Linked DNA regions of Homo sapiens: regions 2 and 3 are each linked to region 1. Evidence: fine-mapped expression QTL. A gene starts in region 1. Each other region holds a variant in brackets. All regions are shown on one strand. Distances are between the middles of the regions. Region 1 holds the start of FKBP9 (FKBP prolyl isomerase 9). Region 2 overlaps FKBP9 (FKBP prolyl isomerase 9). Region 3 has its middle 24 kb from the start of FKBP9.

Evidence for each region. PIP is the estimated chance that this variant, and not a neighbour inherited with it, causes the effect.
Region 2: its variant is the best candidate, but not a certain one, in a credible set for the expression of FKBP9 in whole blood (INTERVAL, PIP 0.82).
Region 3: its variant is the best candidate, but not a certain one, in a credible set for the expression of FKBP9 in lymphoblastoid cells (TwinsUK, PIP 0.53).

The regions. Positions count from the first base shown.
Region 1 is chr7:32,956,086-32,958,847 of GRCh38, forward strand. It overlaps FKBP9 (FKBP prolyl isomerase 9), which reads left to right and starts at 1,355. Exons shown (of 10, transcript NM_007270.5): 1 at 1,355-1,709. The coding sequence starts at 1,489. RefSeq lists enhancers at 202-1,152, 1,002-1,051 and a silencer at 1,142-1,611.
Region 2 is chr7:32,992,370-32,995,131 of GRCh38, forward strand. The region is part of intron 6 of FKBP9 (FKBP prolyl isomerase 9); the gene reads left to right. Among named protein-coding and RNA genes, the nearest start is that of FKBP9, 36 kb to the left of the region's middle. The variant C/T (reference allele first, on the strand shown) is at 1,340.
Region 3 is chr7:32,932,229-32,934,990 of GRCh38, forward strand. It overlaps the pseudogene RP9P. Among named protein-coding and RNA genes, the nearest start is that of FKBP9, 24 kb to the right of the region's middle. The variant C/CT (reference allele first, on the strand shown) is at 1,356.

The DNA of each region.
Region 1 (2,762 bases):
CCCTGCTAATTTTTGTATTTTTAGTAGAGCCAGGGTTTCACCATGTTGGACAGGCTGGTCTTGAACTCCTGACTTCAGGTGATCCAACCACCTCGGCCTCCCAAAGTGCTAGGGTTACAGGTGTGAGCCACTGCGCCTGGCCTAATATGCGGTTGAATCCGATTTTATTACGTTTTATTCAGTATTTTTGCATTTATATTTATAAATTAGATCGTGCCCTGTTTTTTCAGTTTTATTTTTCTTTTTTGTTGCTCTCTTTGCCAGGTTTTGGTATCAGAATTGTGTTTGCTTCCAAAACGAGTTGAGAAAGAGTTGGTGATTTGCTTTCATTATTCCAAAATTTTAATAAATTATAACACCCAATTCCAATTCCAAGTGCATCTGATTACTCTAATGGATTCCTGTGGCTTCTGGGTCTCTATGATGAAGTCCTCCCTGGCATAGGCTCGTATATGGGAGCTTGTAGGATGTCTGCAAGTATCAGCTCACAGTGCGGCCGCTGATGGCTTGGAGGACCCTCACGGTGCCTTAAAACTTTTGCCTAGACAAGTGTCACGGGAGCCTCTCGCAATACATGCCTCCCTTTTCTTTTTTTGGAGACAGTGTCTCGTACTGTCGCCAGGGCTGGTGTGCAGTGGCGCGATCTCGGCTCGCTGCAACCTCCGCCTCCCGGGTTCCAGCGATTCTCCTACCTCAGCCTCCCGAGTAGCTGGGACTACAGGCACGCGCCACCAAGCCTGGCTAATTTTTTTGTATTTTTAGTAGAGACGGGGTTTCATCATGTTGGCCAGGATGGTCTCCATCTCCTGACCTCGTGATCCGCCTGCCTTGGCCTCCCAAAGCGTTGGGATTACAGGCGTGAGCCACGGCGCCCGGCCTTCCTTTTCCTTTAAGCAGTATTAAAAAAAAAAAAAAAAAGTCCTGAAGGATGGTTTCGGTCTCTTTCAAGGTAGACCATACCCTTGTAACTAAGCTTAAAAAATTAAAATCTAATTTTCCCTCCCTCTCCAAAGCAGCAAGGGAAAATTGGATCCACGGCCACGTAGGAGCCCCTCACGGCACCAAACCCGGTGTCTCCAGGGACGGGCGGAGACCAGCGGGTGGGCTTGGGCAGTACGCGCTTTTCTCTTCCGACTTTGGGCCAAAGCCTTGTCCGGAGATCACAGTGTCTCGCTCGGGGACACGCCCTCTCTAGGCCCAGACTTGGTCCCCACTGGAGTTCCCAGCCCCCCTCCCCGCTGCGGCACGCACATTCCCAATGCCGGGCGGGGCAGGGCGCAGCAGGCCCGCCCTCGGCGCGCGGCCAGGCTGGGCTCCTCCCCTGGAGCTGCGGCCGGGAGGGCGGGCGGCCGGGGAGACGGGGTGGCGGCTGCAGCCCGGGTAGGGCCAGGAGACCCGGTCCACGTTTGCAAACGCAGCCGAACGCCCAGGCCGACCCGTGCCGCCCGAGCGCCGCGCTGCGTCCGCGCCACTCTTCTCGCCGCCCCGATGGCGTTCCGGGGCTGGAGGCCCCCGCCGCCACCGCTGCTCCTGCTGCTGCTCTGGGTGACCGGGCAGGCAGCGCCCGTGGCGGGCCTGGGCTCCGACGCGGAGCTGCAGATCGAGCGGCGCTTCGTGCCCGACGAGTGCCCGCGCACCGTGCGCAGCGGCGACTTCGTGCGCTACCACTACGTGGGGACGTTCCCCGACGGCCAGAAGTTCGACTCCAGGTACCGCGCCCTTGGCGCCCGGCGCGGCCTCAGCGGATGCGCGTCCCTCTCTCCGGACAGGCCTTTCCCTCCTGCCGGACCTCCCCTAGCTCCGCCCCGTGCAGCCGCGCTCCTCCCTTCTTCCGCTGCCCAGATCCTCCCGGACCCCAGACCCTCCGCCGCGGGTGAGCCTCCCGGCCCTCACGTGCCCTAGGCTGCCAGCCGGGGACTGGACCCTTGGAGGACCTTGAGCAGCGGGGTTGGGGCAGACCACGTCCTCCCTTTCCTCCCAGCGCATGGACACACGCAAAATCAGTGTAAAATAATCAGTGTAAGTGGAGGCCACGTTGCACAACTGGACCCCCAAGAGTGGATGTTCGTGCCTGCCTCTCTTCGCCCTTTCCTGTTCCTTCCCTCCGCTCCCTTGGGAATCTAGTCAGATGGTGCTTCTCACACAGAACAATGATGAAGAGGCTAGCAGCCCCAAACATACAATGAGCTGTTAACAATGTGTAGGTGTAGTTCTAAGTACTTTCCATATTGTAGTGAACTCATTTAATTGTACAGCAGTCTTGTGAGGTAGGTACTATCACTACCCTCATTTTATCAGTAAGGTAACAAGCAACTGCGGCTAAGAAACGTGTTTAAACAATGGAGTCAGATTGTTTAATCCAACTCCAGAGTCTGTGTGCGCAACTACCACTGCCCTTCCTTTCCTGCCATACAAAAACCTCTCTTGGGGCTGGGCGTGGTGGCTCACGCCTGTAGTCCCAGCACTTTGAGAGAACGAGGCGGGAGGATCGCTTGAGCCCAGGAGTTTGGGGCTGCTGTGAGCTATGATCGTGCCATTGCACTGCAGCCTGGGAGACAGAGAGAGATCCCATCACAAAACAAAACACAACACGACACCTCTCGTGGGCAGGAGGTAGTCCAGGACCGTCACTCTGCTTTATACCAGGCCCTATATCAAGCCCAGAACTCCTTCTCTCAGCTCTGCCTCAGGATCACAGCACTGCTCTCCCGTTTCCCTCCAGTTTAGGTTCGGGGTTAACAGGCCTCTCTTCGTCCAGCACC
Region 2 (2,762 bases), 36 kb after region 1:
CCACCACCAGCAGAGGAAATCCACCCCCAGCAGGAGCTGCAGAGTTTCTTGGGTGGGCTATTGGCCGCTTTTAAGTTTTTCTCATCTGTATCTCTTCTGAGGGAGGCATCCTCATGGTGAGAACAGAATGATGACTTCTGCATTGGTTAAGGGTTTATACAGAGAGGAGGTTGGTGTTGGAGCCACGTTGGACTATTTCTGCCCGTTTGCTGGTCAGCACTCATTTCTATACTTAATCTACAAATAGCTTTGTGGAAGTCAGAGCAAGATAGAGGGATAGAGGTTCGAAGCCTTGGTGCTGCCTGGGGTAGGTGGGGTCTATGGTTCAAGGCTCTGATCTTCATTTTTGCAGGCGGAGAAACTCCATCTATCCATCCATCAAAGATTTATTGAGTTTCTTCATGACCAGGCCCTGCTCACGGTGTTAGGGATTCAGCAGAAAGAAACACAAACAAAACTTCCTACGCACACAGAGAGTGTTTCCTTGTTGACGCCCTCAATAATGTGTGTGCCTCAGAGGTTATCAGGCACCTGGGAGACTGACTCACGTTAACTTCCTAGAAGCTGACATACTCACCTGATGCTACATGGTTCCTTGACTGGGTGTGAATCGACCTCTACACTGGTTGGAATTCTTGTGCCTGGAATCCTCGGGGCCTGAGAGGCTGAGTTCATTTGACTGCTGACATCAGATCCCAGGGATGTGGGTGGTTCCAGATGCATTCCCTTTTGCCCTGGAGAAGGCCCTGCACCTGAATGCATCTTGGAGGGGAGATTATATTTGAATTGATAAAATTTGGTGACTGCTTAGCTCAGTGTTAGAAGTTTTTAAAATTTGTGGTAAAATATACTTAACATCTTTACCTTGTTAACCATTTTAAGTGTACAGTTTAGTGGCATCAAATATATTCACAATGTTGTATAACCATTACTATCATCTACACTCAGAACTCTTTCATCATCCCCAACATAAACCCATTACACAATAACTCCCGATTCCTCCCTCCTATCAACCTCTGACAACCACCTTTCTTTCTGTCTCTACCAATTTGCCTATTCTAAGTGCCTCACTTGAGTGGAATCATACAATATTTCTCTTTCTGTGTCTGTCTTATTTTACTTAGCATAATGTTTTCAAGGTCTATTTGTATTTTAGCATTTATCAAAATTTCAAGCTGGGCGCGGTGGCTCACGCCTGTAATCCCAGCACTTTGGGAGGCTGAAGCAGGCGGATAACCTGAGGTCAGGAGTTCAAGATCAGCCTGGCCAACATGGTGAAACCCTGTCTCTACTAAAAACACAAAAATTAGCCAGGTGTGGTGGTACGCGTCTGTAATCT[C/T]AGCTGAGGCAGGGAAATCGCTTGAACCCGGGGGACGGAGGTTGCGGTGAGCTGAGAACATGCCAATGCACTCCAGCCTGGATGACAGAGCAAGACTCCATCTCAAAAAAAAAAAATTAATTCCTCATTTCTGGCTAATAAATTTCATTCCTTTTTATTGCTGAATGAATATTCCATTGGATGTATATACTACATTTTGTTGATCAGTTCGTCTGGTGATGAACACTTAGGCTGTTTCTACTTTTTGTCTGTTGTGAATAATGCTTAATGCTTCTGTGAATATGAGTGTACAAATATCTGTTCGCATCTCCAGCTTCAATTCTTTTGTATATATACCCAAGAAAGATATTTTTATTTAATGTTTTCTTGAAATATAATTCACATACTATAAAAATAATCATGTTAAAGTTTACAATTTAGTTGTTTTTAGTATATTAACCAGGTAACATAACCATTACCTCTACCTAATTCCAGCACAGTTTCATCACTCCAAAAAGTAACCCATAACCATTAGCGGTCACTCTCCGTACCCTGTCCTCATCCATCCACTTCCCCCACGCTGGCAACAGGTAGTCTATTTCTTGTCTGTATGGATTTGCTTATGCTGGATGTTTCCATATCCCTGGAATCCTACAGTATGTGGCCTTTTGTGTCTGGCTTCTTTCACTTAGCATAATGTTTTCGGGTTCATTCCCAGGTGATTTTTAACAGGTTACCAAGGTTGAGGAACCATAGATCTGCCTCTGCAGACACCCACCCTGTCCATGTGTGTTAGCTTCCCACACAGAGCCATCCGTGGCCTGGCTTTGAGCAGCCTTCTGGCCAATGGCAGGCTGTACTTCCTGGTTCCTGTGGGAAGGAGCCTGCACCCCACTCCACCCACACCAGCAGCCCCTGTTTTGAGTGAGTAGCAGGCACCTGTGTTCTGCTATTAAAGCACACGCTTCTCAAATTATTACCTTTAACTTTGGCCAGCCCCAAAATTTGTACCTCCATTTTCTCAGGATTTTAATGAGAATTAAACAATACATGTTTAATTTAGAAGAATGCCTGGTACTCAATAAACGCCTATTAAATATGAGCGTGAGTGTGTTTCTATTAGAGATAGGAGAGAGACCAATCAAGAAGCAGACACAGAAAAGTACGTGTTGGGACAGGAGGTAAGGAGGGACTGTTGGAGTTTGTGTATCTCTATCTGAATTTTGTCATTAGCTGTGTTATTCTCTTGAATAAGTAATATCATGTCTGAATTTTTCATTTCTTTCTTTCTTTCTTTTTTGAGGACGGAGTCTCACTCTGTTGCCCAGGCTAGAGTACAGTGGTGCAATCCTAACTCACTGTAGCCTTGACCTCCTGGCCTCAAGCAATCCTCCTGCCTCAACCTCCCGAGTATCTGGGACTACAAGTGCTCACCACCACGCCC
Region 3 (2,762 bases), 24 kb before region 1:
GTAATCCCAGCACTTTGGGAGGCCGAGACGGGCGGATCACGAGGTCAGGAGATCGAGACCATCCTGGCTAACACGGTGAAAACACGTCTCTACTAAAAATCCAAAAAAATTAGCCGGACACAGTGGCAGACGCCTGTAGTTCCAGCTACTCAGGAGGCTGAAGCAGGAGAATGGTGTGAACCCGGGAGGCAGAGCTTGCAGTGAGCCAAGATTGCACCACTGCACTCCAGCCTGGGCAACAGAGCGAGACTCTGTCTCAAAAAATAACAAATAAACAATTAAATAAAAATTAAAAAATATTATGCCTTATGCACAGAGGCCTAAGAGAGTTTGGAAGGGAGGTGGTAAAGTCTATGAAAATATCCAATAATCCAACAAATAATTATTTTTGCCACAGGAGCTGAACAAACAACATATGGCCAAACTAAGTTCCAAATTCCTGAAAAATATGTAACTATATTGCCTAGATGGAAAAGGAATGTGATAGAACTGCACATTCTGAATTCTATTATTATTTGCAATGGCATTTCCTAAATAGTCCATTTTACAAGAGTTCCCACCAGTTTAAGGGGGGGGGGGCGCTGATGCTTTTTTCCCTGGGGCTAAACAATTCATTAGTTTATGTAGCATGTTAAGATATTTCCAAAGTTTAAAATAATATTCAGCCAGGCATGGTGGCTCACACCTGTAATCCCAGCACTTTGGGAGGCTGAGGTGGGTGGATGACTTGAGGTCAGGAGTTCAAGATCAGCCTGGCCAACATGGGGAAACCCCATCTCTACTAAAAATACAAAAATTAGCTGGGTATGGTGGTGCACACCTGTAGTCCCAGCTACTCGGGAGGCTGAGGCAGGAGAATCGCTTGAAGCCAGGAGATGGAGGTTGCAGTGAGCTGAGGTCACACCACTGCATTCCAGCCTGGGCGACAGAGCGAGACCATCTCAAAAAAAAAAAAAAAAAAAAAAAAAAAAAAGCAAATGAATAAAACTCAGGCTCTTATTAACTACTTTAAAAATACAAAATAAATCATAGGTCACTATTTGATGCAAAAGTGAATGATATTGCAAAGTAATACTTATGTTAATATTAACTACTAATTTAGCAAAAATTATTATAATATGACTACATAGGAAGGAAGGAGACAAGGGTAGTAAAACAACTAAAATCTTACCTACTCTGTCCTCAGTTGAATAGCTGTAGGAGACCAGAATATGCTACCTCAAAGCACACCTTTTTGGCTAAGGATCATTTTGAGAAACAGCAGACACAGGGGAAGCTCTGAAAAGAGAGCCGAAGTCACCCTTTTGTAAGACAAATGTTCATCTATAAAGGGAATCTCCATTTCAGGTGAGACC[C/CT]TTTTTTTTTTTTTTTTGAGATGCGGTCTTTCTCTGTCACCCAGGCTGGAGTGCAGTGGCTTGATCTCTGCTCACTGCAACCTCTGCCTCCCGGTTCAAGCGATTCTCCTGCCTCAGCCTCTTGAGTAGCTGGGATTACAGGTGCGCACTATCACGCCCGGATAATTTTTTTTGTTTTTAGTAGAGACGGGGTTTCAACATGTTGCTCAGGCTGGTCTCGAACTACTGACCTCGTGATCTGTCCACCGCGGCCTCTCAAAGTGCTGGGATTACAGGCGTGAGCCACCGCTCCTGGCCACAGGTGAGACCCTTTCTATATAAGAAAGAGAAAAATGTCTCTCAATCACAAGAGAATGCTAACAACGGGGAAAGCACAGACACAAACCTGCATAACAAACCTTACCTTTATTTATCATACTTTTCTTGGTCACTATCCCATAGCTCAGTTCCCCCATATCTTTCTTTCTTTGATTTAGCTGAACATGGTATTTAAGCCTGAATCCAAAACCACTTCTTCAAGATTTTTCATTCCACTGGGTATCTCCCATGTATATAGAACATATACATGGTAATAAACTTCTGCTTGTTTTTTTCTGTTTGTTTGTTGGAGAGAGAGTTTCGCCCTCATTTCCAGGCTGGAGTGCAATTCACCGCAACCTCCACCTCCCGGGTTCAAGCGATTCTCCTGCCACAGCCTCCCGAGTAGCTGGAACTACAGGCGCACGCCACCACGCCTGGTTAATTTTTGTATTTTTGGTAGAGACGCGGTTTCACCATGTTGGCCAGGATGGTCTCGATCTCTTGACCTAGTGATCTGCCCACCTCGGCCTCCCAAACTGCTGGGATTACAGGCGTGAGCCACTGCGCTCAGCCTTTTTTTTTTTTTTTAAGATAGAGTTTCACTCTTGTTGTCCAGGCTAGGGTACAACGGCACAATCTTAGCTCAACGCAACCTCCGCCTCCCGAGTTCAAGCGATTCTCCTGCCTCAGCCTCCTGAGTAGCTGGGATTATAGGCATGTGCCACCAGGCCCGGCTAATTTTGTATTTTTAGTAGAGACAGGGTTTCTCCATGTTGGTCAGGCTGGTCTCAAACTTCTGACCTCAGGTGATCCGCCCGCCTCAGCCTCCCAAAGTGCTGGGAGTACAGGCGTGAGCCACTGTGCCTGGCAATGCTTGTTTTTTTTTTATTATTAATCTTCTGTTACAGGGGCCCTGGACCTTAGAAGAGTGGAAGGAAAAAAACTTTCCCCTTAAATAGATAATGTCCATTACGGAATCAAAAAAGGCAATATAAGGCTGGGCATGGGGGCTCATGCCTATAATCCTAGCACTTGGGAGGCCAGGGTGGGAGGAATCCTTAAGTCCAAAACCAGCCTGGGCAACACAGCTAGACCCTCTTTCTAAAA